Linked DNA regions of Homo sapiens: region 1 is linked to region 2. Evidence: fine-mapped expression QTL. A gene starts in region 2. The other region holds a variant in brackets. All regions are shown on one strand. Distances are from middle to middle.

Evidence for each region. PIP is the estimated chance that this variant, and not a neighbour inherited with it, causes the effect. A credible set is the group of variants that fine-mapping cannot tell apart.
Region 1: its variant is the best candidate, but not a certain one, in a credible set for the expression of SRL in atrial appendage (GTEx, PIP 0.85).

The regions. Positions count from the first base shown.
Region 1 is chr16:4,186,438-4,198,454 of GRCh38, forward strand. It overlaps SRL (sarcalumenin), which reads right to left. Exons shown (of 6, transcript NM_001098814.2): 4 at 11,362-11,478; 5 at 9,116-9,349; 6 at 2,937-6,527. The coding sequence ends at 5,716. Among named protein-coding and RNA genes, the nearest start is that of SRL, 50 kb to the right of the region's middle. The variant A/T (reference allele first, on the strand shown) is at 5,590.
Region 2 is chr16:4,236,067-4,248,083 of GRCh38, forward strand. SRL (sarcalumenin) reads right to left here and starts at 6,014. Exons shown (of 6, transcript NM_001098814.2): 1 at 5,941-6,014. The coding sequence starts at 6,001. It overlaps LINC01569 (long intergenic non-protein coding RNA 1569), which reads right to left. Exons shown (of 3, transcript NR_039999.1): 3 at 9,759-10,995.

The sequences.
Region 1 (12,017 bases), 50 kb before region 2:
TGCAGTGGTGGGATCATGGCTCACTGCAGCCTCTACCTCCTGGGCTCAAGCGATCCTCCAACCTCAGCCACCTGAGTAGCTGGGACTACAGGCACATGCCACCACACCCAGCTAATTTTGTTGTTGTTGTTGTAGAGAGGAGGTCTCACTATGTTTCCCAGGCCAGTCTTGAACTCCTGTCCTCAAATGACCTTCCCACCTTGGCTTCCTAAAGTGTTAGGATTACAGGTGTGAGCCACCTAGCCCAGCCAGTTTGTTTTTCTAATGCTTTTTTATTGCCTTTACTTTCTTCTAAAGAAAAATGATCTGAGGTGAGAGGATCACTTGAGCCCAGGGGTTTGAGACTAGCCGGGGCAAGATGACAAGATCCCATCTCTCTAAAAAAAAAAACACTCAGCCTGGAGTGTAGTGGTGCCATCTCAGCTCACTGCAACCTCTGCCTCCTGGGTTCAAGCAATTCTCCTACCTCGGCCTCCCAAGTAGCTGGGATGACAGGCACCCTCCGCAATGCCTGGCTAATTTCTGTATTTTTAGTAGAGACTGGGTTTCACCATGTTGACCAGGCTGGTCTTGAACTCATGATCTCAAGTGATCTGCCCACCTCGGCCTCCCAAAGTGCTAGGATTGCAGGCATGAGCCACCGCACCCAGCCAAAAAAAAAACCTTTTTTAATTAGCTGGGTGTGGTGATGTGCACCTATAGTTCCAGCTACTTGGGAAGCTGAGCTGAGGAAGGAGGATCGTTAGAGGCCAGTAATTCAAGGCTGCAGTGAGCTGTGGTTGCATCACGTCACCCAGCCTGGGTGCAGCCTGGGTGACAGAGTGAGACCCTGTCTCAAAAAACCGCACAGACACCTTCTTTACTCCCCCAAACCCACTTATTCACTCTGATGGCACACGGGTGATGAGCTCCTGTGTGTCAGGCACTGTGCTAAGTACCTGGCCACCTGTTTCCCCACACTCATGGACTTTACATATGTATTTGCACACACCTTTTGCATATAACCATGTGTAACCCCCATGGATTCAGATGATACATCCACTTACCCTTAAAAATACTCCATTCATGCCCCTCACTTTATCTATGTTTATCCTGGTCCCGGATTGTGCTTTCTCCGTTTTCTGTTTCTGTTTCTCTATCATCTTAATGGCAGACAATGTGAAGATGGTGAGGCTTGTGAAACAGTACAATTTTGAGGCAGATTCTGGCATATTACTTAACATTTATCTTTAAAACAGTCCTCCTTCTTCCAGGCAAGAGCTCTGGATTTCTCCCGGGAAAGGGTGGAAGAGGGACGCAGGGTTGGGTGGGTGAACAGGAGTGGCCTTAGTTGGGTCATGTTGCTCAGTTGCTCAAAGACCAAGGACTGCAGACTCTCCCTTTCTCCCCAGGGCCCAGTTTTTTCCCTTTCAAAACCCGCTGTCTACCTGCAAGATGGCTCACATCTCTAATCCCAACACTTTGGGAGGCTGAGGCAGGAGGATGGAATAAGGCCAGGAGTTTGAGACCAGCCTGGGCAACATAATGAAACCTCATCCCTACAAAAAAAAAAAAATGTTTTTTTCAATTAGTCAGACATGGTGGCATGTGCTTGTAGTCCCAGCTACTCAGAAGGCTGAAGCAGGAGGATTGCTTGAGCCCAGGAGGTTAAGGCTGCAATGAACTATGATCGCGCTACTACACTCCAGCCTGGGTGCCAGAGCGAGACTCCGTCTCAAAAAAAAAAAATGGGTAGATGTGGTGGCTCAAGCCTGTAATCCCAGCACTTTGGGAGGCCGAGGCAGGCGGATCACTTGAGGTGAGGAGTACAAGATCAGCCTGGCCAACATGGTGAAACCCTATCTCTACCAAAAATACAAAAATGAGCCAAGCATGGTGTTATGTGCCTGTAGTCCCAGCTACTCAGGAGGCTGAGGCAGGAGAATCGCTTGAACCCGGGAGGCGGAGGTTGCAGTGAGCTGAGATGGCGCCACTGCACTCTAGCCTGGGCAACAATGCGAGACTCCATCTCAGAAAAAAAAAAAAAAAAAAATCGAAAACAACAGAAAACCAGCCGGGTGCAGTGACTCATGCCTGTAATCCCAGCACTTTGGGAGGCCAAGATGGGCAGATCACGAGGTCAGGAGATCGAGACCATCCTGGCTAACGCAGTGAAACCCCGTCTCTACTAAAAATACAAAAAATTAGCCGGGCGTGGTGGCGGGCGCCTGTAGTCCCAGCTACTCGAAAGGCTAAGGCAGGAGAGTGGCGTGAACCTAGGGGGCGGAGCTTGTAGTGAGCCGAGATTGCGCCACTGCACTCCAGCCTGGGCGACAGAGCGAGACTCCGTCTCAAAAAAAAAAAAAAAGAAAAAGAAAAGAAAACAACAAAAAACCTGTTCTCAAGCAAGATGTGAAACTCCTTCGAAGACCCCAGAAGTAAAACATAAAAATTAAACGACCTCTGCTCTGAAGAGGATACTAGAAACAGGAAAATGTGATAGAAAGGGCTCAGGGAGTCAAGGACGCGTTCAGGTTTCTCTAAAGACAGGTCCAAGCGGGAGGCTCACGTCCACACTTCGTGGAGGAGGAGAACACTTTCTGGTGAAGCCAAGGGGAGGTGGCAGCCTTACCATTCAGGAAACCTTTGTGCCCTCCTCCACTGGAGCCCTCAGTTATCTAAGGCAGCTGCGTGGATGCCCAGGGGAATGAGGCATTGAGGTGCTGAGGAGAGAGCAGTTCTTTAAGTTTCAGAGGACACCACGCCTTCCTGGGCGGCTGAGAGAGCAACTCAGCCTCAGTCCCAAAAAAGGTCCTGGGGCATCCAGCTAACACAAGGGTGGGCAATTTCTTAATTTCCAGTCTCTCCCCAAGGAACTTACACATGAGTTAACTCTACCAGATAAAAGGAGGATGAAGAGAGTAACCTAGCTGGAGACCATGAGAAAGCACGCGGTGTTAAAGAGAGATCGGAACTTTATTGAGACTGATGAAATCAGAACCAAAAGAACACTGGAAAGGTTCTGCCACTGTCCAGGCACAGATCCTTCCAGACACTCCTCTTGGGGGAATCTCTGGATCATTAAGTTTCCCCCAGTTCCTAATCCCCCACCCCAAAGAGTCAGAATTCTGCTTAAAGCCCCCTCCACGGAGCTGGCCAGAAACCAGACACTGAGTATCTGTACTGACTGATGGGCAGGCCTGTGAGCAGCAGAGACAAGAGAAATCAGAGAAGGAACACGAAAAGGAAAACATGACGGAAAGAAAAGCCCAAGGCAGGGAGAGCATGCTGATAACGCAGCCCCCTGAAAATATAAATATTGCATGAATGTATTAGCCTCATCCCAGCCATTTCCCCCAAAGCAGTGGTGACACCAACAGCTATGACAATGCCCACACAGTTGTGCATCTTTTTTTGTTTTTCCCCTGACTACACAGAAAAACAGATCTGCCAAAGCAGCTCACAGCATGGAGGAGCAGGCAGGGGAAAGTGGGAGGGCCCATCCCCCAAGAGGGCAGACAGTACAGAGATGAGGCGAGGGGTTCTGGGGTTTGCGGAGGGTGGTTAATGAGAAGAAAAGTCCAGGACAGATTCCATCTCATCAGCCCCTATCACAGGCTCCGTGGATGCCCCTTGCAGAACTCACTGTTCTTTCCTGGTCGACTCGTTCCTTGGAAACATTGTCCTGAGTGCCCTGGAACCTCGGGTGTTCTTGTGGAAGGGTCCAGGCCCTCCACAAAGCCAAACGCAACGGCCCCTGTGACAGCATGCACCAGAGTGATAACAATTCTGAGAACCGGGAATTCCTAACTCGAGGTTCTCCTCATAGACCTAACCTGACTGCCAACTGGCTTACCCTGCCTGACCTCAGAGTGCCTCTCCCTCTGCCTGCCTTTCCACTGTCCTGGGTCCAGGATGACTTCCTGGTGCTGAGCTGGTGCATCCTGACTCCTGCCTCGTGGGTAAGGCCCCCAGGACAGCTTGTTCCCAAGAGAAGCGGCTGGCTGTGTACAAAGGAGCCCCTCGAGGCAGCCCGGGCTGGGTCTCCTGGGCATGCACAGACTGTGCACCATGCACATTTCACCATCCAAAGGCTGCTTCTTCCCTGCAGGTCCTGCCCCTCTGCTCCCCACCACCTGCTGTGGAGCCGTGCATGCTAGCCTTGCAAGACTGTTACAAGTTCTCTACTCCCTAGAGTCTATGTGATCTCCCTAATCTCTCTTGGACAACATACACACATATTCACACTTATTGGTATTGAAGGCCCTGGCTTTCCTGCGGTGTGTTCAGTGGACATCTGCATCAAGGTCAGGCGGGAAGGTCAATGTTAAGCCTTGGTGGCCACCGACACCGAGTGGCTGGTGCTGGTTCTGACTCCTAGGAAATTGCTCCAAGTAAGTGTTGATGCATCAGGGAATGGAGAAGAAAGGAAAGGAAAAGCCATGGTGTGGAAACTGCAAAGGAGCAACTCCGCTGCCAAGTGTTTCCACAGGGGAGTTGTGGAAACAGCCTCCTCTGAAATTTGAGAGACTGGCGGCCTAAGGAAAAGGAGCAAGGTCTCCACTGTCCTCTCTGAAACCCAGCGCCTTTGGGATCTGAGTTTTCCAAGACATGCAATAGACAAAGACGCACTGCAAACCAATTAACCCTCTGAGCCCTTCCACGACCTTCACTACAGTCACTTCCAAGAGTAAATTACCTGGATACACCAACCAGTCCCCTCCTGGGTCCGATGAAGGGATCGAGCCCTCGAGCCAGCTTTGAGGAACACATCAGAGAAGTGGCAGTGGGGGAGGCAGATCCTTGTCCTTCCTGGGAACTCCTGTTCTTAGTTGTCGAGTGTCCTAAACCACTGCCCCACCCCTTGAGGAAACCAGGAGCAAGTCCGGGGGATTGGCTCAAAACCCAGGTGGAGGCCGGGTGCGGCAGCTCATGCCTGTAATCCCAGCACTTTGGGAGGCCGAGGCGGGTGGATCACTTGAGGTCAGGAGTTCGAGGCCAGCCTGGGCAACATGGTGAAGTCCCGTTTCTACTAAAAATACAAAAATTGGCTGGGCATGGTGGTAGGCCTATAATCTCAGCTACTCAGGAGGCTGAGGCAGGAGAATCGCTTGAACCCAGGAGGGGGAGGTTGCAGTGAGCTGAGATTGCACCACTGCACTCCAACCTGGCCGACAGAGCGAGACTCCGTCTCAAAAACACAAAAACAAACCCAGGTATATTCAGACCCAAGAGACTATTCACTGTTGAAAGTCAACCCAAAGTTAAGAGGCAGCCGAGGGCTGGGGAACAAACGCGAGACTGTGGGTGTGGAAAGAAGCCAAAATGGACCTGACAATCTCTACGACTCAGGCCTTCGCTGTTTTCCCAGCTCACAGGGAACAAAGGAATTTCAGCTGCTTTTAGCTTATTTGACCCTCACTGATTTAAGATACACTAGAATTTAGCTGCTCTCTGTCCTTCCAAGACAGGACCCAGGAAAAGCAGGTGGAGGCTGACTTGCCTCAATCAGGCCTCCTCATTGAAGCAACAAGACAAGCACACAGGAATTCACAGTTTCCACTCTCCTCCCTAGACCCACACACCTGCCCCGACCCCTGGCCTCAATGA[A/T]CTCCCAACTCTCCACTGTGTAATAATTCCTGCCAGTGTGGCTCAAAGGGTTAATAAACCAGGACCTCTCAGACAGTTAGGACACAAGCTGATTCACCAACAGGAACCCAAGGACCGCTCCACCACCTAGTGCTTCCTGTAGCGATTTTTTGGTGTTTCGCTACACCCTGTTTTGTCACAGTTGAGAGCACCTGGATTCTTCCCGAGCCCGAGGCTACCCAGGAGGCCCGGAAGCTCCTGAGTGATGGCCCGCTCAATCTTCTCCAGAAAGCAACCTCCCATGTAGGAGCACTGCTGGGAGAGCAGTTTGAAACTGGAAATGGGATTGATGCCGAAGAAGTCCTTATAGGCCTCGCGGTTGGGAAGGTCAAATTTGCTGACATTGGTCTTTGCCAGGATGGTCTTGAAGATGTAGAATTTATCGGGATCTTCCACAATGTCCTTAAAGACCAGTTCTCCATCACTGAAGAAGGTCATTTTGTCCTTGTAAGTCTGCAGGTAGCGGTCAACCAGGAGGGCGTGGATGCGGACCCGGATGGCGTGCTGGCGGATGAAGGCAATCTTGTTCTCCAGTCTGTTCTCGATCACCTGATTCAGGTCTTCTAGGAGGGAGATCTCTTCTTGGAGGAACAGTTCCTGATGGGTGTCCGGCTTATACTCTTGTGGCCAGAAGGAGCTGACGTAAACCCTTGGGGGCTCTGTGACATTGATGAGAGGGGCCAAGCTCCAGAAGAGGGCCCCGTAAACCCGCATGAGCATTTGGGTGGCCAGATTGTCAGCCTTGTTCAGGATGATCCTTATCTGGGATTCACGCCCCTTCAACTGGCGGAAGAGCATCTCCAGCTCTAGACCCACATCCAGCTTTGTTGGGTCAAAGACGACAAAGATGAGGTCAGCTCTGTCGATGAACCACTGGCACACGTCGTTGAAGGGGTAGCCTTTGGGAGACAGAAGTGAGAAGTCAAACTGAGTAGGCCTCCCTCAAAGCCCGCGCACCTCCTTTCAGAACTAAACCATTCTGGGGGTTGAAAGAAGGAACAGCGCTACGGATTTTCTGGGTTTCTACAGACTATTAAAAAATCAATTGCATATCTCCTGTCCCTTGCCAATCTTCAACCAAGAACAGCCTGATCCTTGTTTTTCTTGTTGGTTTGTTTTTTGAGACAGGGTCTCACTCTGTCACCCAGGCTGGAGTGCAGTGGCATGATTATAGCTCACTGCAGCCTCAACCTCCCGGGTTTAAGAATCCTCCCACCTCAGCCTCCCAAAGTGCTGGGGTAATAGGCGTGAGCCACCATGCCCCACCTGATCATTGTTTTAATCTACTGTGAAATCCAAGTTTCCAAGAAAGCTAAATACCTGTTCAAAATGGAGATTGTCCTATTGTCTAAAAGGATCTGGGGCAATGGCAAAGATGCTGAGGGAGAGAAATGAGGAATTAGAAGAACATGAAAGAATGAATGCATTATTTACGGGGAAGGAATGTGGGCTTAGCATTGAGACCTGGACTAGAATTTGAGCTTTGCCCCTGGCGAGCTGTATATTAAATGCCTCTAAGCTCTACCTTTTTAGCTCCAAAATGACAAGAAGAACAATATCAACATCTGAACTGATATAAAGATTACCATGTTGCTGTAAATATAGGACAGCACCTAAAATTCCAGTCATACAGCTGGTGCAGAATACATTTTAATTCCATTAGCTTCTTATTTCCTAGTTTTCTTTGCAAATAAGAAAACTGAGGAGATGAGGACTACCTGTCTTAAAAACATTGAAATCTTTTTTTTTTTACAATAATGTATAAAATTATCCAACGTGTAGTAGGGGTACAATTTACTATTATAATTATTAACATTATTAACATTACTAATAATACTACTAATGTCATTATACCATAATAATATAATTAAATATACTATAATATTATTACTAATATTACTACTAATATTATTAATTGCTTCTAATATTACTGCTAATATCATTACTACAAGATCTATTTATAACCACAATTGGAGTTGTAACCATAAACTGAGATCCACCGTCTGCTCACACATTCCTGCACTGCCCTGTTCAGGACTCACTGCAGACAGCCTTGCCTCATGGCAGGACTCAGTGGCCTACTCCATAGCCACATGCCTGGTGGATCTGGCTTCTAGTCTTGTGGCCTGGTTGTCAGCCTTGTTCATTAAATACATTCACACTGTTGCACAACCATCATGGCCATCCCTCTCTGGAACTTATTCATCTTCCCAAATTGAAAATTCTGTACCCATTAACAGTAACTGCCCATCTCCCCTTCCCCCCAGCCCCTGGTTAAAACCACTCTGGTTTCTGTCTTTCTCATTTTGCCTACTCTCATGTAAGTGAAGTCAGACATTAGCATTCCCCTGCTACCTGAGGGCAAGTAGGGCTTTGAAGAAGCCTGCTAAAGGCTTATGGGGAAGCAACCCTGGAAAAGCAGAAACCGGGAATAGGAGGAGTTGAAGGTCAGGTTCAACCTACAGCAGGCCCAGGAGCACCAAACCCAATTTAGCCAGAAGTCAAACATACTGGTACTGGGATCCAATTAGTCCAGGCCCTTGGCTACACAGGACACACAGGGCCTCCCAAAGACAACTGAGCCCCAGCTTGAACCTCTCAGAGCTGCTTGCAGAGAGGACTAGGCCCCCACTTTGGAAAATATTGCCGTCTCCAAACCAAATCAGTCCTTGGGGAGGTAGGAGCACCAGGCACTCCAAAACCCAGATGGCATCGCAGTAACGACAAGAAGGGTGGAAGTTAAGAATGCCTCTCCTGGTCTTAGGCAACACTGGGCACACTTCCTCTCCCTGCCTGCCTACCACCCACTGTCAAAAGTAGTTTTCTTTTCTTCCTTTTTTTTTTTCTGAGACAGAGTCTTGCTGTGTCACTAAGGCTGGAGTGCAGTAGCATGACCACAGCTCACTGCAGCCTTGACCTCCTGGGCTCAAGCAATCCTCCCAACTCAGCCTCCCGAGTAGCTGGGACTACAGTCATGTGCCACCATGCCAACCTAATTTTTATATTTTTTGTAGAGGCGGGGTTTTGCCATGTTGTCCAAGCTGGTCTAGAACACCTGGGCTTAAGTGATCCACCTGCCTTGGCCTCCCAGAGTGCTGGGATTACAGGTGTGAGCCACTGTGCCCAGCCTTATTTATTCATTTATTTATATAAGTTAGGGTCTCACTCTTGCCCAGGCTGGAGTAGAGTGGCACGATTACGGCTCATTGCAGCCTCAACTTCCTCAGCTCAAGCAATCTTCCCACCTCAGCCTCCTGGGTAGCTAGGACCATAGGCACATGCGAACATGCCTGGCTATTGTTTAAATTTTTTTGTAGAGATGAGGTTTCACTATGTTGCTCAGGCTGGTCTTGAACCTCCGGCCTCAAGGGATCCTCCTGTCTTGGTCTCCCAAAGAGTTGGGATCACAGGCATGAGCCATCATGCCTGGCCAAAAATAATTTTTTGAAACAGAGCTTACACTGTTCAGAAATGAGGGCTAAATTACCTCTTTCTTGCTGCTTGCGGTTCTCGATGATGCCTGGTGTATCCACAAAAGTGACCCTCTCCAGAAGTTTGTGGGGAACCTCAATGCCAATCAGCTTCTCTAGGAAATTCTGGCCAAACTTCTCAAGGGGTGAGAAGGAACGGGCGCTGTCAGCAGCCATGACGATGCCCTCGATGGTTTTCAGCTTAGGCCCATGCATGAGGACCGTGAACTCAGAGGTGGTGGGTTCAGCGCCTGGGCACACGGGGTGAGAGGTGAAGGAATACATGATCTCTGTGAAACAGATCTACTGAGAAGCATGTGTATATGCCTGGTGTCACAGGGAGACTTTTGCAACAGAATTGGATATGTTTGCCAAGCTATTGGGGCTTTCTTTTAATTGTGGTAAAACATACATAACATAAAATTTACCTTTTTTTTCTTTTTGAGATGGAGTCTTGCTCTGTCACCCAGGCTGGAAAGCAGTGGTGCAATCTCAGCTCACTGCAGCCTCCATCTCCCAGGTTCAAGCGATTCTCCCACCTCAGCCTCCCGAGTAGCTGAGATTACAGGCACTCGCCACCATGCCTGGCTAATTTTTGTATTTTTAGTAGAGACAGAGTTTCACCGTGTTGGCCAGGCTGGTCTCGAACTTCTGACCTTAATGATCTGCCCACCTTGGCCTCCCGAAGTGCTGGGATTACAGGTGTGGGCCATTGCTCCTGGCCTAAATTTACCATTTTAATCATTTTAAAGCATGCAGTTCAGTGGCATTAAGCACATTCACCCTGTTGTGCAACCATCGCCACCATCCAGGTCCAGAATGTTTTTATCTTCCCAACTGAAAACTCTGTATCCATTAAACAGTCATTCCCCATTTCCTCTTCCCCCAGTCCCTGGTTACAAGCACTCTGGCGTCTCTCTCTCTGATTTTGCCTTCTTTTTTTTTTTTTTTTTTTTTCCTTTTTGGAGCAGAGTCTCACTCTATCGCCCAGGCTGGAGTGCAGTGGCATGATCTCAGCTCACTGCAACCTCCGCCCCCGGGTTCAAGCGATTCTCCTGCCTCAGCCTCCCAAGTAGCTGGGATTACAGGTGCCCAGCACCATGCCCAGCTAATTTTTGTATTTTTAGTAGAGACAAGGTTTCACCATCTTGGCCAGGCTGGTCTTGAAGTCCTGACCTTGTGATCAACCCACCTCGGCCTCCCAAAGTGCTGGGATTACAGGCGTGAGCCACCGCGCCCAGCCGCCTACTGTCATATAAGTGAAATCAGACAGTATTTGTCCTCTTGTGTCTGTCTTCTTTCTTTTAGCATAATGTCTTCATGGTTCATCCATGTAGCAGATATCAGAATTTCATTCCTTTTTAAGGCTGAATAATAATTTATGTATGAACAGACCACATTTTCTTGATCCTTTCATCCATTGATGAACATTTGACTGGTTTCCATGTTTTGGCTATTGTGAATAATGCTGCTATGGACATTGGTGCAGATGTCTTTTTTTGTTTTCTGTTTTTTCCAAATTTTCTTTTTTTTTTTTTTTTTTTTTTTTGTGAGACAGAGTCTCACTCTGTCGCCCAGGCTGGAGTGCAGTGGCGCGATTTTGGCTCACTGCAACCTCTGCCTCCTGGGTTCAAGCAATTCCGCTGCCTCAGCCTCCCAAGTAGCTGGGACTACAGGCACCCGCCATCACACCCAGCTAATTTTTTGTATTTTTAGTAGAGACGGGGTTTCACCATGTTGGCCAGGCTGGTCTCGAACTCCTGACCTCAGGTCATCCTCCTGCCTCAGCCTCCCAAAGTGCTGGGATTACAGGCATAAAGCCACCATGCACAGCCTTTTTCAAATTTTGTATTTTAACACGTGCATGTGGCATAACTTTTCTTTCCTTTTTTTTTTTTTTTTTTGAGACGGAGTCTCGCTCTGTCACCCAGGCTGGAGTGCAGTGGCACAATCTCAGCTCACTACAATCTCTGCCTTCTAGGTTCAAGCAATTCTCATGTCTCAAGTTCCTGAGTAGCTGGGATTACAGGAACGTGTCACCATGCTTAGCTAATTTTTGTATTTTTTTTTTAGTAGAGATGGGTTTTTGCCATGTTGGCCAGGCTGGTCTCAAACTGACGGCCTCAAGTGATCCACTGCCTTGGCCTCCCAATGTGCTGGGATTACAGGCATGAGTCATAATGTCCGGCCAGTGATTTAAATTTTCATGGTGCTTTTACATACAACATTCAAATCCCAACAATCACACAAGAATATTGATTACCTGTATAGAGCTGATAGCGAGTATTTTCCAGCCCAAGGAGGTAGTTTATCATGGTAGATTTACCAACACTCCACGGTCCCAGGAACAGTACCATGGGCTTGGAGGTAATCTCTCCATCTGTGGGCAACAGGAAGTAGAAATGGAATAAAACTAACAAAAGTTCACACAAGGGGTATGGCACCGTACTCCAAAGCATCTCACCGTCCATCCAACTGAGTTGTGGAATTCTCCATGAATCAGACGTGTGTAGCCCCCAGTGGCGCTTCTCTTGCTACGTAAGTGTGATCACCCAGTAAAAAGACACAGAAGTCACTTTTGGGCCTTGCCCAGATCCTTGGCACGTCTGCCCCCACCACAAGAAGGATCTCAGTGAATTCAACAAACCCTGACTCCGAACTCACTCTGGGTGAGGTCTCCTGGTTAAATCTGGAGGAGAAAAGCCCATAGAGAAAGGAGGACGGAGCTTCCACATGGAGAGAATCTGGGTTGAGAATGGAGGATGGATGTGGAGCAGCTTGTATAATCTTGGGTGGTCTGGACTCAGACCCTTCCTGTCTCCAGCCTCTGCAGCTCTCCTCTCCTCCAGCCTGGGGCTCCCCAAATTCCCAATACAGCCTAATCCTGGACTCTGAGGCCAGTGTCTCTCTCTCTCTTTC
Region 2 (12,017 bases):
CTGTCTAAAAAAATAAATAAAAAGAAAACGTAAAGAAAAATATTTTCTCTACCTCAGTAAACCCATCTGCTTTTAAGTTACTGTTGCTGGCCTTTATTTATCCCAAACTTAATTTTTAAAGGTTTCTATGTCTAAAGATGTTGCCTCCTCATCCTCACTAAATACCCTCAAACCCTCCTCATTGGTCAGTGACCTCCTGGTTGTCAGAAGGAACAGCTCCTCTCCCTCAGCATCTCTGTGATATTTAATCCTGCTGGCCACTCGCCCTTCTTCTAGAAGACCTGGGCTTGCAGGTCACTGTCTCTTCTTGGGTCCCTTCCTATCTTTCTGAAATTCATTTATCTTCTTCCTCTTCCTACTCCTCAAACTTAGCGTTGATCAAGGACTGGTCCTTGAATCTTTGTCTCTCCCTGGTACAGCTCCATGGGTGACCTCAGAGCCTCCCTCTCATCTTTACGTAAATGAATCTCACTCCTAAATGCCCTGACCTGACTTCCCTCCTAAGCTCCAGTCCTGCCTAACCCCTGCCACCTCCTTCCAGATGCCCCACGAGTAACCAATCTTCATAATGACCCAAACTGAACTTTTTTTTTTTGAGACAGAGTCTTGCTCTGGTGCCCAGACTGGAGTGCAGTGGCATGATCTCAGCTCACTGCAACCTCTGCCTCCCGGGTACAAGCAATTCTCCTGCCTCAGCCTCCCGAGTAGCTGGGATTACAGGCGCATGCCACTACGCCCGGCTAATTTTTTGTATTTTTAGTAGAGATGGGGTTTCACCCTATTAGTCAGGCTGGTCTCGAACTCCTGACCTCGTGATCTGCCCTCAGCCTCCCAAAGTGCTGGAATTACAGGTGTAAGCCACTGCACCCAGCCGTGAACTTTTTTTTTTTTTTGAGACAAGGTCTCACTCAGTTGCCGAGGTTGGGGTACAATAGTGCCATCACAGCTCACTGCAGCCTCAGCCTACCAAGCTCAAGCGATCCTCCTGCCTCAACCTCCCAAGTAGCTGGGACTACAGGTACCCGCCATCATGCCCAGTTCATTTTTTCTATTTTTTGTTTTATTTTCTATGTTGTCCAGGCTGGTCTCAAACTCCTAGGCTCAGGCCATCCTCCTGCCTCTGCCTCCGCCTCCCAAAGTGCTGGGATTACAGGTGTGAGCCACTTCATCCAAGCCCAAACTGGACTCAAAATCTGTTCCTCTCTCTTATGTTCCCAGTCTATTTTTCTGGCAAGATCATTCTCCCAGTGACCTCAATGGAACCTGTAAGGGCCCCCTCCCCTGGCCTGGCTCCCAAGCTGGGAAGGCCAGGGATTCTACACCAGCTGTCAGCTGGGTCCACCCCTTCTCTCCACTCCCAACCCCTCGCCCAGGTCCACACTCCCTCACCTACCTCTCTGGCATGGCTGACTAATCAGTCTCCCCCTCCCTACTCTTCCTACAAACAACTGCCAGACGGATCTTCCCTGAGCCCTTGGTAGTGACCCGCTGCCCACAGAGCAAAGCCCTGCTTAGCCTAACAAGGCCCTTCACACTTCAGCCCCACCCCTGCCTTCCGAACACGTCCCGCCACCCCACTTCCATCTGCCCGCCTTCATGCAAGACAGAACAATGCTCCCCTTCCCTGGGTCTCACCAGAGCCCCGTTGCTCTGGCACCGTGAGTTTGCTCATCTTGTTCCCTCAACTCAGAATTCCCTTCCTGCCATCTTTCTGTTCTGAATCCTGCTTTCTTCAAGGCCCAGCTCAAATATTCCCTCATCCGTAAAACCTTTTCTGATCCGATCCACTCAGCTCAGGATGGTCTCCTCCCTGCCTTCAGCCCCACCTTGCTTTTCCTGTGCCTCCCCAGTGACACTGATGTGTGTCCCATTTGACTAGATTCAGCTACGTGCAAGGGAGAAGACGCCTCCTCTCCCCTACTGGACTATAAGCACTGAGGACAAAATGCCTGTCTCAATTCCCCTAGTACCATACTTCAAAAACAGCAGGGATGCAGCAAACGAGGGATGGGTTCACGAATGATGGAACACGTTGAGGTGTTTGAATGACAGGGTTGCACATACGAGCGATGTTTACAGGTAAGGACTTATGCTGCGATGAGGCCTGGATTTGGGTTTGGAGCAGGGCATGTGCCCAGGAGAGAGAGCTAAGTAAGCCCAGGCGCTCCATCCCACAGCCATGGCCCTCCCTGCTCCCCACTCCCCCAGCCACCTGCCTCATTCCAGCCAGGATGCACAGGGCCTAGCTCTGTCCTTAGCCTGCAGGCCAGGTCAGAGAACGGAAACAGCTGTCCCCCTCCTGAGTCCATAGGCTGACTCTCCCCAGCCCACTACACCCAAGCAGGCATCAAACGGCCAGCTAGATGCTACCGGCCTCATCTGGACCTCCCTCTGGGGGATAAGCGGGTAAAAGCACTGGCCAAGGAGTGGAAAGGACTGAATTCCAGCTCTGGCCTGCCATGAACTCACTGTTTGACCTTCACTGTAATACCTGGATGTAGGAAAAAACCAGCAGTTCCTAAACAGCAGTTCCACAGGCCACCATGCCCGGTGCCACTTTTTTTTTTTTTTTCCTTGAGACAAGGTCTCGCTCTGTCACCCAGGCTGGAGTCAGTGATGCAATCACAACTCACTGCAGCCTGACCACCCAGGTTCATGTGATCCTCCCCCCTCGGCCTCTCAAGTAGCTGGGACCACAGGCATGCACCCCTACACCGAGCTATTTTTTTTTTTTTTTAGAGACAGGGTCTCACTATGTTGTCCAGACTGGTCTCAAATTCTTAGCTTCAAGCGATCCTCCCACCTTGGGTTCCCAAAGCGCTGGGATTACAGGTGTGAGCCACTGTGTCCGACCACCGTGTTACCTTCTTGAGGGATGTGTTCATTAGCAAGACCCAGTCTAGTGCATTCCAGGCTCACTGTGGGACCAGATGTCCCCTACAGGCTTGCCCGGCTGCACCAAATGAGGAGTCAGGGAACCAGCTGTGGGGAAAAGGCTTCTGGGGTCTGTTCTCTCCCCAAGACCCCTGAGCTTGCTACATTTTCTCAGCAGCCCTGCCACAGCTAGGCTGCCCTGATGAGGAAACTGGAGTGCTGGCCTCTTTCCAGAAATAACCAGCCAGGGGTGGGAGAGAAAGGGGCGGGGAAACAGCTTCCTGACCGTCACTGCACCCTTGTCTCACATGGCGGGCACTGAGCTGTGGGCACTCACAGAGGGGCAGCCCCAGCATGCACCAGCCCCTTGCCATTGGGGTGGCCGGGTGGGGCCAGGGCAGATGGGCAAGTCTGAAGCTAGGGCTGGAGGTGGAGGAAGGATGAGATGGACAGGAATCCCCAGATCCCCAATCTCCGTATCAAGCAACAAGAGGGACAACAGGAAGCAAAGAGGTCCCAAATTCTGCCTTTAGCAGTAAACACCAATGGCTTAAACCCGAAGAAATGAAATGCTTTCTCAGCAGACTTCGCTCTCCAGGGAAACCAAAAGCATAGCTCTTCGCCCTGCAAACTAGGGAAACTCCCCCAGGACGGTCTTATCCACTGCACCCTTTCTCCTCCTTTCACACTCACCGTACAGGGAGAGAGGGGCTTGGGAGTGCAGGCAGGGTCTGTCACAGAGAGACGGGCTGAGGAAAGGAGAGGACCCTGGCCCGGGTGTGCCTGTCACTGACGCGCTGTCTGACCTCGGAAAAGTTTTCCTGTTTCTCTGGGTTTCCTTCCCTTCCCTGGATGGTGGGGAGACCGATCAAATCATTGCTAGGGGCGTTTCCCACTGCTTTAAGGAGGAACAGCCCCAAGCCAGGACTCCCAAAGAGGAGGGCCCAGTGGGTGGTACAAAGGCCTGAGTGCAGCAGCAGGTCGGGAGGTGGAAACCGGGTAAGGCCCCACCTGGCTGCTCCTTCCCCGTCCTGGCATGGGCACGGGCGACGGGTGGTTGGTAACAGAGGGGCGCTTGTCTCCTCACAGGGAGGCGAGAAGGAGGGCTGCAGAGCCCACCACCCCAGCCAGAGCTGCACACGAGCAACAAGGAGGAGAAGCCGGAGGAGAAGCTCTGTGGGGTCCCTGGCCTAGGAAGCAGATGGGAGTGGTGAGCGAGAATATCTGCCGCCACCCAGCCAAGGAGCAAGCATGATAGGGAGGGAAGTTAGCACACAGCGGAGAGATGAGGGAAAGAGGTCAGGAGCCAAGATGTGACCTTTGGGTGGGGTGGTATTTACCGGGGTGGCACAATTCTGAAGGGGAAATCACCCAGTAGGAAGGACTGTCATGATGGGGGCGTGAGGAAGCCACCTTGTGGGTTAGAACCTGCCGGTGGATGCAGGAGGAGGCCTATTCTGGGGTATACAGTCCACAGTGGGGCAGAGTCCTGATAAAATCCACCACAGTGGATGAAACCCACAGCCCAAGTGCTGAGCAGGAGCAGGGACAGAGGGAAGCTTTACGCCGGAGGTTGGGCCAGGGGCAGACGCACGCTGTGGGACCCAGGAAGGAAAGACAGCAGAGAGAAGGGACCTTTGCACAAGCACCTGCCTGCGTCCTTTCCCCACGACAAGAGCCCCCAGCGAGGCCTGCAGAACATTCCAGATGACCAGTTCCCTCGGTGGGAGGAAAGATAAAGGATGTCCCTAAAAGGCCAAAAATTCCTGGGGCCCAGTGTGTAGCAGCCCAGCAGCTGGGGCTGGGGGGCAGCACAGGAGCGGCCACGAAGGGAGAGGGTGGCAGCGGCTTGGGGCTCCGGATCCAATTACGCGGCTGTTTCCATACTTAGCCGCCTGACAGCCGCCTGGAATACTCAGCACTCAAGCCGCTGCAGCCCTGCAGAGCCCAAATTAACTCAAGGACAGACAAGGGCAGGGCCCAGCAGCACATGCAGTGGCTGGAGCCCCCCACCTTACATCTTGAGTCCCCGAGAAATAGCTTTTGTTCCCACCCACTGCCTGCTCTCCCTGCAGGGACTGTGCCCCTGCAACCCCCTATTCAACCTCAAAGACCTGAGAGGCTGGACTCTGGGCCTCTCCAGTCCCAGGTACGGACCTAGGCTCAGAGCCCAGCTTGGGGGAAGACTGCCGAGTCATGAAAAGACTCGGTGGGCAGTCCGGATCCTAGGGGGATCCCCGGAGCACCTCCCTAAAAGCATTCCCTCGGGGAACCTGGCCTCAGGAACCTTAGGAACAAGAGAGGTGGCAAAACAATCTGGCATCTCCTCCATAGCCTATAGATAACCCCCATGCTGCAACCCAAGCCACCACCTCTGCTACCCAAAGTGCTGAGATGTCAAAGGGAAGCCTCAGCACACAGAGCCAAGCCCCTTTTCTGATGGAAGCCCCCACCCCGAGCAGAGGCTCTACTCCAGAACGGGCCCCGTTCCTCTTCTGAATTGCATCCAATGCTGTTTCCAGCCCAACCGCCAACTCTATTTCCGATCTTATCCCAAACCAATTCCAATTCTATCTCACTGCTCCCAAAACGGTCCCCACCTTTGCCCACTGTATCCCCTTCTGTCCACGCAAACCCAGTTCTCTTACCCGAGTGGGGCCTCCGCCTTATATCCCACCAGGTGGGAGGGTCACCTCAACGACCTCCAGCTCCCAGACTGTGCTATTTTGTCCGTCTCAGAGGCTCCCCCGTCTCGACTTTGAGGGCCCTCTTTCCCACATCTACTGGCCAGACTCCTCTCTGACCCTGGCTCACAGCTCAGCTCTGTTTGCCGTTCCCACTTCCTCTGGCCTTCCTGAGGGCCCCGCAACTGTGCTGCTATTCTCCAGCACCCAGCTCTTTCTCTGAGGCCCCAGGCCCGGGGAAAAGAGAAGGGTAAGAAGACACCAGCCAAGAGCCAGGGTTTGCCATCAGCCCCGACCCCCTACCCAACCCATGGTAGACAGAAAACCTTGGAGGAAGCGTGGGGGACCAGTCTGGGCTGGGTCATGCTGGGAGGGGCCCTACCTGCTTGTCCTGAGAACAGGAGCGAGGCCAGGAGGCAGCCGAGCAGGACCAGCGCCCTCATGGTGACTGCCAAGAGAGCCCAGCTGCTCCTCGCCTCTATTTATACGGCCGGCCGTGGCAGCAGGCGGTGGAGGGGGGAGAGGGGTCACACAGTCACCAGGGCAACTAGGAGGGTGTGATGGGGAAGAAGCCCGGACCCCAGAAGGCTGTGCAGAGGCTCAGGCTGCGCCACTGCTGTCCCAGCTGCCAGGCCCCAGAAGGCAGGGCCGTGGCTGGATTCTCTTCCCCCGAACCCCTGCAGCCCTGGGATCACATGACATGGGTCACAGGGCGTGGGTGACAGGCATAAAATGGAGCATCCCTTGGGCTCAGGCGGTGGAGCTGGGAAGCTGAGTCTTCCCAGAACTTGCAATAACTTGACCTGAAGTCTCGGCAGGTTAAGGACCTTGACACGCCTGCACTGGAAGGAGGAAGTTGTAAGGCCACGCAAAAGAAATCCTATTTAACAGCCACTGATCCACATGCTAGAGAGTGGTCAGCTACGGCAAACCCGCAACATGTGACCTCTGAGGTCCAAGGCTGCAGCCCTGGAACAACCTTCCCAGCCTCTGGAAGAGAGAGAGCACAGACCAGAGGGAGAGGGGCACACTGAGACACAAGCTGAGGCTACGGTGTAAACTGGAGGATGGAGCAACAGATATCCATTTCCAATGGCCCAGGGGTTCCAGAACATTCAGTCACCTCTGCAAAGTGCTTTTTTGTTTATTTGTTTTTGATAGAGGATCTCGCTCTGTCACCCAGGCTGGACTGCAGTGGCACAATCATCACTCACTGCACTCGACCTCCCAGGCTCAATCAATCCTCCCAACTCAGCCTCCCAAGTAGCTAGGACAGTAGTGCCACCATGCTGTACTAATTTTTTAAAATTTTTTGTAGATGGCCCAGAGAGCCAGTTGTAAGAAGCCAAGGGAAAGCAGACACTTGCTTGTCTGGTCGGGGTACAGTGTCACTGTGTGGGGAAGAGGTAGAAGCCAGCCTTGGAGGAAAGGAACTAAATCAGGGCCAGGCACAGTGGCTCACACCTGTAATCCCAGCACTTTGGGAGGCCGAGGCGGGTGGATCACCTGAGGTCAGGAGATTGAGACCAGCCTGGCCAACATGGTGAAACCCCATCTCCACTAAAAATACAAAAATTACTGGGTGTGGTGGCGGGTGCCTATAATCCCAGCTCCTCAGGAGGCTGAGGCAGGAGAATCACTTGATCCCAGGAGGCGAAGGTTGCCATGAGCCAAGATTGCACCACTGACTCTAGCCTGGGCAACAGAGCGAGACTCTGTCTCAAAAAAAAAAAAAAAAAAAAAAAGAATTAGGCATCTGGTAGGCACTTGACTTTTTTTTTTTTTTTAATCTTTTTTAAGAGACAGGGTCTCTGTCACCCTGGCTGGAGTAGTGACACGATCATAGCTCACTGCAGCCTTGAACTCCTGGGCTCAAGCCACCCTCTCACCTCAACCTCCGAGGGGCTGGGAATACAGGTGTGCACCACATCTGGCTAATTTTTTTGTTTTTTGCAAACATGGTCTTCCTATGTCACTCGGGCTGGTCTCCAACTCCTGGGCTCAAGCAATCTTCCTGTCTCGACCTCCCAAAGCACTACGATTACAGGCATGAGCTACTGCTTTTTCAAAGACAAGGTCTTGGGACTTTTCCTCTTGGAAGTCCCCTCTCTCTCACTAAGGAGCTGTTTTTCTTTCTCTTTCTTTTGCCTGTTAAACCTCTGCTCCTAAACTCCTCATGTGTGTCTGTGTCCTAAATTTTCTTGGCGTGAGACAATGAACCCCAGGTATTTACCCCAAACAATGTAGCTGCTTCATGTTGGGGACCTCATCCGGGATCCCAAGGTACAACACTCATCAAAACGAGTCAAGAAAACTTATTGTGAACTATTTATGGCCTTTAATAATTGAATAAGGTATACTCCTGTGAAGAAAATTTGGAGCATGTTTGTTTCTCTCTGCCTGGTTTCTCTGGAATCTGGAAACTATCTCAACATCTGGTGGAGGCAAACCAGTGTTACAACCCATCAGAATGGCTGACAGTAATCAAACTCTAAATGGTGCTGCAGACAGAACCATGCACGGACATGCCTTTTTTCCGAGGACCCTTAGCTCGACCCCAGGAGGAGCCCTTAGCTTCTGTTCCCCACACAACACCCCTTTTAAGTATGAAGTAGCCAGAAAGAGTCATCATCAAACAACCCCGAAGAGCAGTTAGGGTTACCACTCCAGAGTGGGGAATGATACAGGAGTTAAGAGGAAATTACTTAGATAGTGAGGATACAGAAGTCCTCAGTAAGGTTTTCCTTTTACTGAAAAGCAGCCCCAAATCATTTTCCTTTCTAACAAAGAGCAGCGTGTAAAATCGAGCTGCAGACATAGATGCAGGCAGTTGTGCCAATCATGTTCAAAATGGCGGCTCCATCTTCCCTTCTCTGCCAGCCACGTGCACAGTAAGGAGCAGACAAGATGGTGCTGGCCAAGGGGAAAGTTCATTTGCATAATAAGATTAGAGTGGGGAGGTCAGCCTTCCCCACACCCCAGCGCTATGTAAACATCATACCTGACTGAACCAATCTGTGAGCCCTATGTAAATCAGACACCACCTCCTCAAGCCTGACTATAAAATCCAGTGCATCTGCTGCCGGTGGCGTTTTCCTTTCAGAAGTACCCTCTCTCTCACTGGAGAGAGCTGTTTTCCTCTCTCTCTTTCTTTTGCCTATTAACCCTCTGCTCCTAAAAATTAAAAAAATAATAAAAACAAAAAATTTCAAAAAATAAAGATGAGGTCTCACTGTGTTGCCCAGGCTCCTCTGAACTTCCCAGGCTCAAGTGATTCTCCCACCTTGGCCTCCTGAGTAGCCGGGACTACAGGCGTGAGCCACCATGCCCAGCTCTGCTCAGCTCAGCTCAGCCTTCAGACAGAAGCTGCCAGAGCCCTCAGCCTAAAAGACCCCACCCCATTTTCAGAAACCATGCATCCCTAGGCACACCTGCTCCTGACTGTCTCAGACTGACATTCCTCAGATGACTGGGGAGGAAGCATGTTTGAGAACAAGACGTGGGGCAGAAGAAAAACCATGTAGCCCGGCTACTCCTTTCCAATGGTCCCATTTCTGATGCCCTGGAGCCAGCGTCAGCCAGCTGCTTCTATAAGGGGCCAGGCGGTAAACAGTTTAGGTTTTGTTGGCCATCTGCAACTCTTCCACTCTGCCTGTGTAGCTAGAGCAGCTGGCACCACAGAGATGAATGGATGTGGATGCATCCTGATAAAACTTTATTATAAAAAAAAGGCAGCTTGGTTCCAAGCTGTAGTTTGCAAATCTCTGCCCATACTCTAGGGAAATCATTTGGTGAATTACTTTGTAAAGCAGAAAATCCTTTGGTAAAGGACCACCCATATCAGCGCTTTATGAATCTGGGTTTTCCTACGTCTGGCTGCTTCATGTGGGGGTTCAGAGCTAGAAAGGGGAAGGCGGTGCAATATCTCGGGGCCAGGGGATGACGTGTGTGTAACGAGGCTGCTGTGGATTTGAGCCTGGGAGCACATGCTCCGGGGAGAAATACGTGAGGAGTTTCATCATCTTTTTTTTTTTTTTTTTTTTTTTGAGACAGGGCCTCATTCTGTCTCCCAGGCTAGAGTGCAGTGGCACAATCATAGCTCACTGCAGCCTCGACCTCCTGGGCTCAAGCAAACCTCCTACCTCAGCCTCCAAGCAGCTGGGACTACTACACCTGGCCATTTTTTCTTTTTCTTTTTGTAGCAACATAGTCTACCTACGTTGCCCAGGCTGGTCTCAAACAATCCTCCTGCCTTGGCCTCCCAAAGTGCCAGGATTATAGGCGTGAGCCTGACAAGAAGAGTTTCTTGGGGGAAAGAAGTAGGTTTAACCCTGAAAAACTTTCTCCGATCAAATGAGAAGAGGTCCCCAGAAGCGGCAAGTCAACATCACAGTCACAAATGTTTATTTGGAGGACCTGACAGCCAGGTCTCAATTGCTAAAGTGTTGCCACAAGAAGGAAGTATTAGGCTTGTCCTGTGTGGTTCCTGAGGGCAAGGCCAGGTTTGATGGGCAAGGGTGACAAGAAACCCATTTTAGCTCAAGGTGAAGGAGGATGTTCAGGTTGAAGCTGCCCAGGAGAGGAACAGGATTGCTGATAAAGAAGTGTCCTGTCCCTGCATGGGTTCCAGCAGAGGCCAGGTATGCAGGGACGGGCACTGCTCAAGTGCTTTCCCTCCCTGCTTGTGCTTAAAGTCTGATTCTAGGGAAGACTCTGGGGCTGGTGCCTCCTGGAGGCCCTCTGCCTCTGTCCCTACATCATTTCCTCTGGAACTCCGGCCTCACTGGTTTCTGCGGGAGGCGCTTACGTGCAACAAGCCTGGCCCGCATCCTTGTCTCAGGACCGTGGGCTGTCTCTAGGGTGGTGAGGGATTTATCCAGCAAGCAGTGTCCTTGAGATGAGGCTGCATCTGCCAGCGGGCATCTGGGTGGGCAGGGACTCTTGGAAAGCCAGGGGCTGTGAAGGAAAGGAGAGCTTCTGCACGCCGCATCCCAGCCATTTCAGCAAGGGTCTTGGGGGAGGGTCTGGATGGGCCTCCTCGCCTGCTTCCTTTTTTTCCACTTCACTTGCAGAGGGCTGCTCCTCTCAAAGCTCAAAGTGCTCCTCTTCTCTGATGGAGAAAATCCCTGGGACAGGGCTCAGAGCCACACGTCGGTGATTCCGGGGAAGATGCGGGCCTCAGTTGTCAAACAGGGCAGCCAGCCTCATAGAACTGCTGTGAGGGACACGGGAGATGCTGGAGGACACAGGTCATGAGTATGAGCTCACTGAATTATCACAAAGCACGAAGAGCAGGTGATGGGGGGGACAGGGAGTGGAGATGATAAGAAAGGCCACAGCCCCTTTACCGTTCTGGGCACGCACTTCCTGTGGCTAAGCCCCTCTTTGGCAGCTGACTTGCTGTATCGTGCCACACCTCAAACGGTTCCTCAAAGGGCTAGGAAAATCAGATTGAACATGACAACTCAGGTCTCTGAATCCATTTTGTACTCAAGACTGACCCAGCGTTAACATGTAACCCTCATTGAAAGTATTGTCCCATTTATCTCAGAAATCATAGGTTATCTGTCTTAGAGGGACCCAAATTCCCACCCAAGCAGAAATCCCTTAACAGCCAGCCATCCAGCCTCTGAATACTCCCAGCAACAGAGAGCTCACTACCAGACAGCTACAGCTCTGCTGTTCTGAAGAGTGTAGGGCCTAGAACTAGCCACGGTGCTCCAGGTCTCCTCCCAACTTCTAAGTCTCAACTTTCAGCCAAAAGCCAGGAGCAGGCCGGGCGTGGTGGCTCATGCCTGTAATCCCAACACTTTGGGCAGCCGAGGCAGGTGGATCACTTGAGTGTTGCAGGCCGAAAGAGTGAGGGTCGTGATCAACTCAGTGCACCACTGGAGGCTATATGAGTAAACAGCAAACTGTTTTCATGAAAGCAGGGTGTTGGCAAACTGACAAACTGCGTCTGCCACCCAGAAGGAATGCTGAGGGCAGTCACGACCCAGCACAAGTGTTTCTTGTAATGAGATAAGGTGAACCTGTGATCAATCAAGCAGCTGACCAATTGTTACCTCCTCCACCCTGCTCTTTCTACCGAATGAGTATGAAGGGCGGTAGAGGTTCAAGGCGGCTGCCCTTGCTCACTAGAAGCAGGGAGCCCTCTTCTTCTTCCCCTGGCCCCTTCCTTTAAAACAGTTTCTTTTGTTTTAAGTTTTCATTTCTACGTTCGTACCCCTTCGTTTAGTCCCGTGGTAACTGTGGCAAACCGCGGCACTTGAGGTCAGGAGTTTGAGACCAGCCTGGCCAACGTGGAGAAACCCCATCTCTACTAAAAATACCAGGCGTGGTGGTGCACACCTGTAATCCCAGCTACTCAGGAGGCTGAGGCAGGAGAAATGCATGAACCCAGGAGGCAGAGCCGAGTAAGCCGAGTATTGTGCCTCTGCACTCCAGCCTGGGTGACAG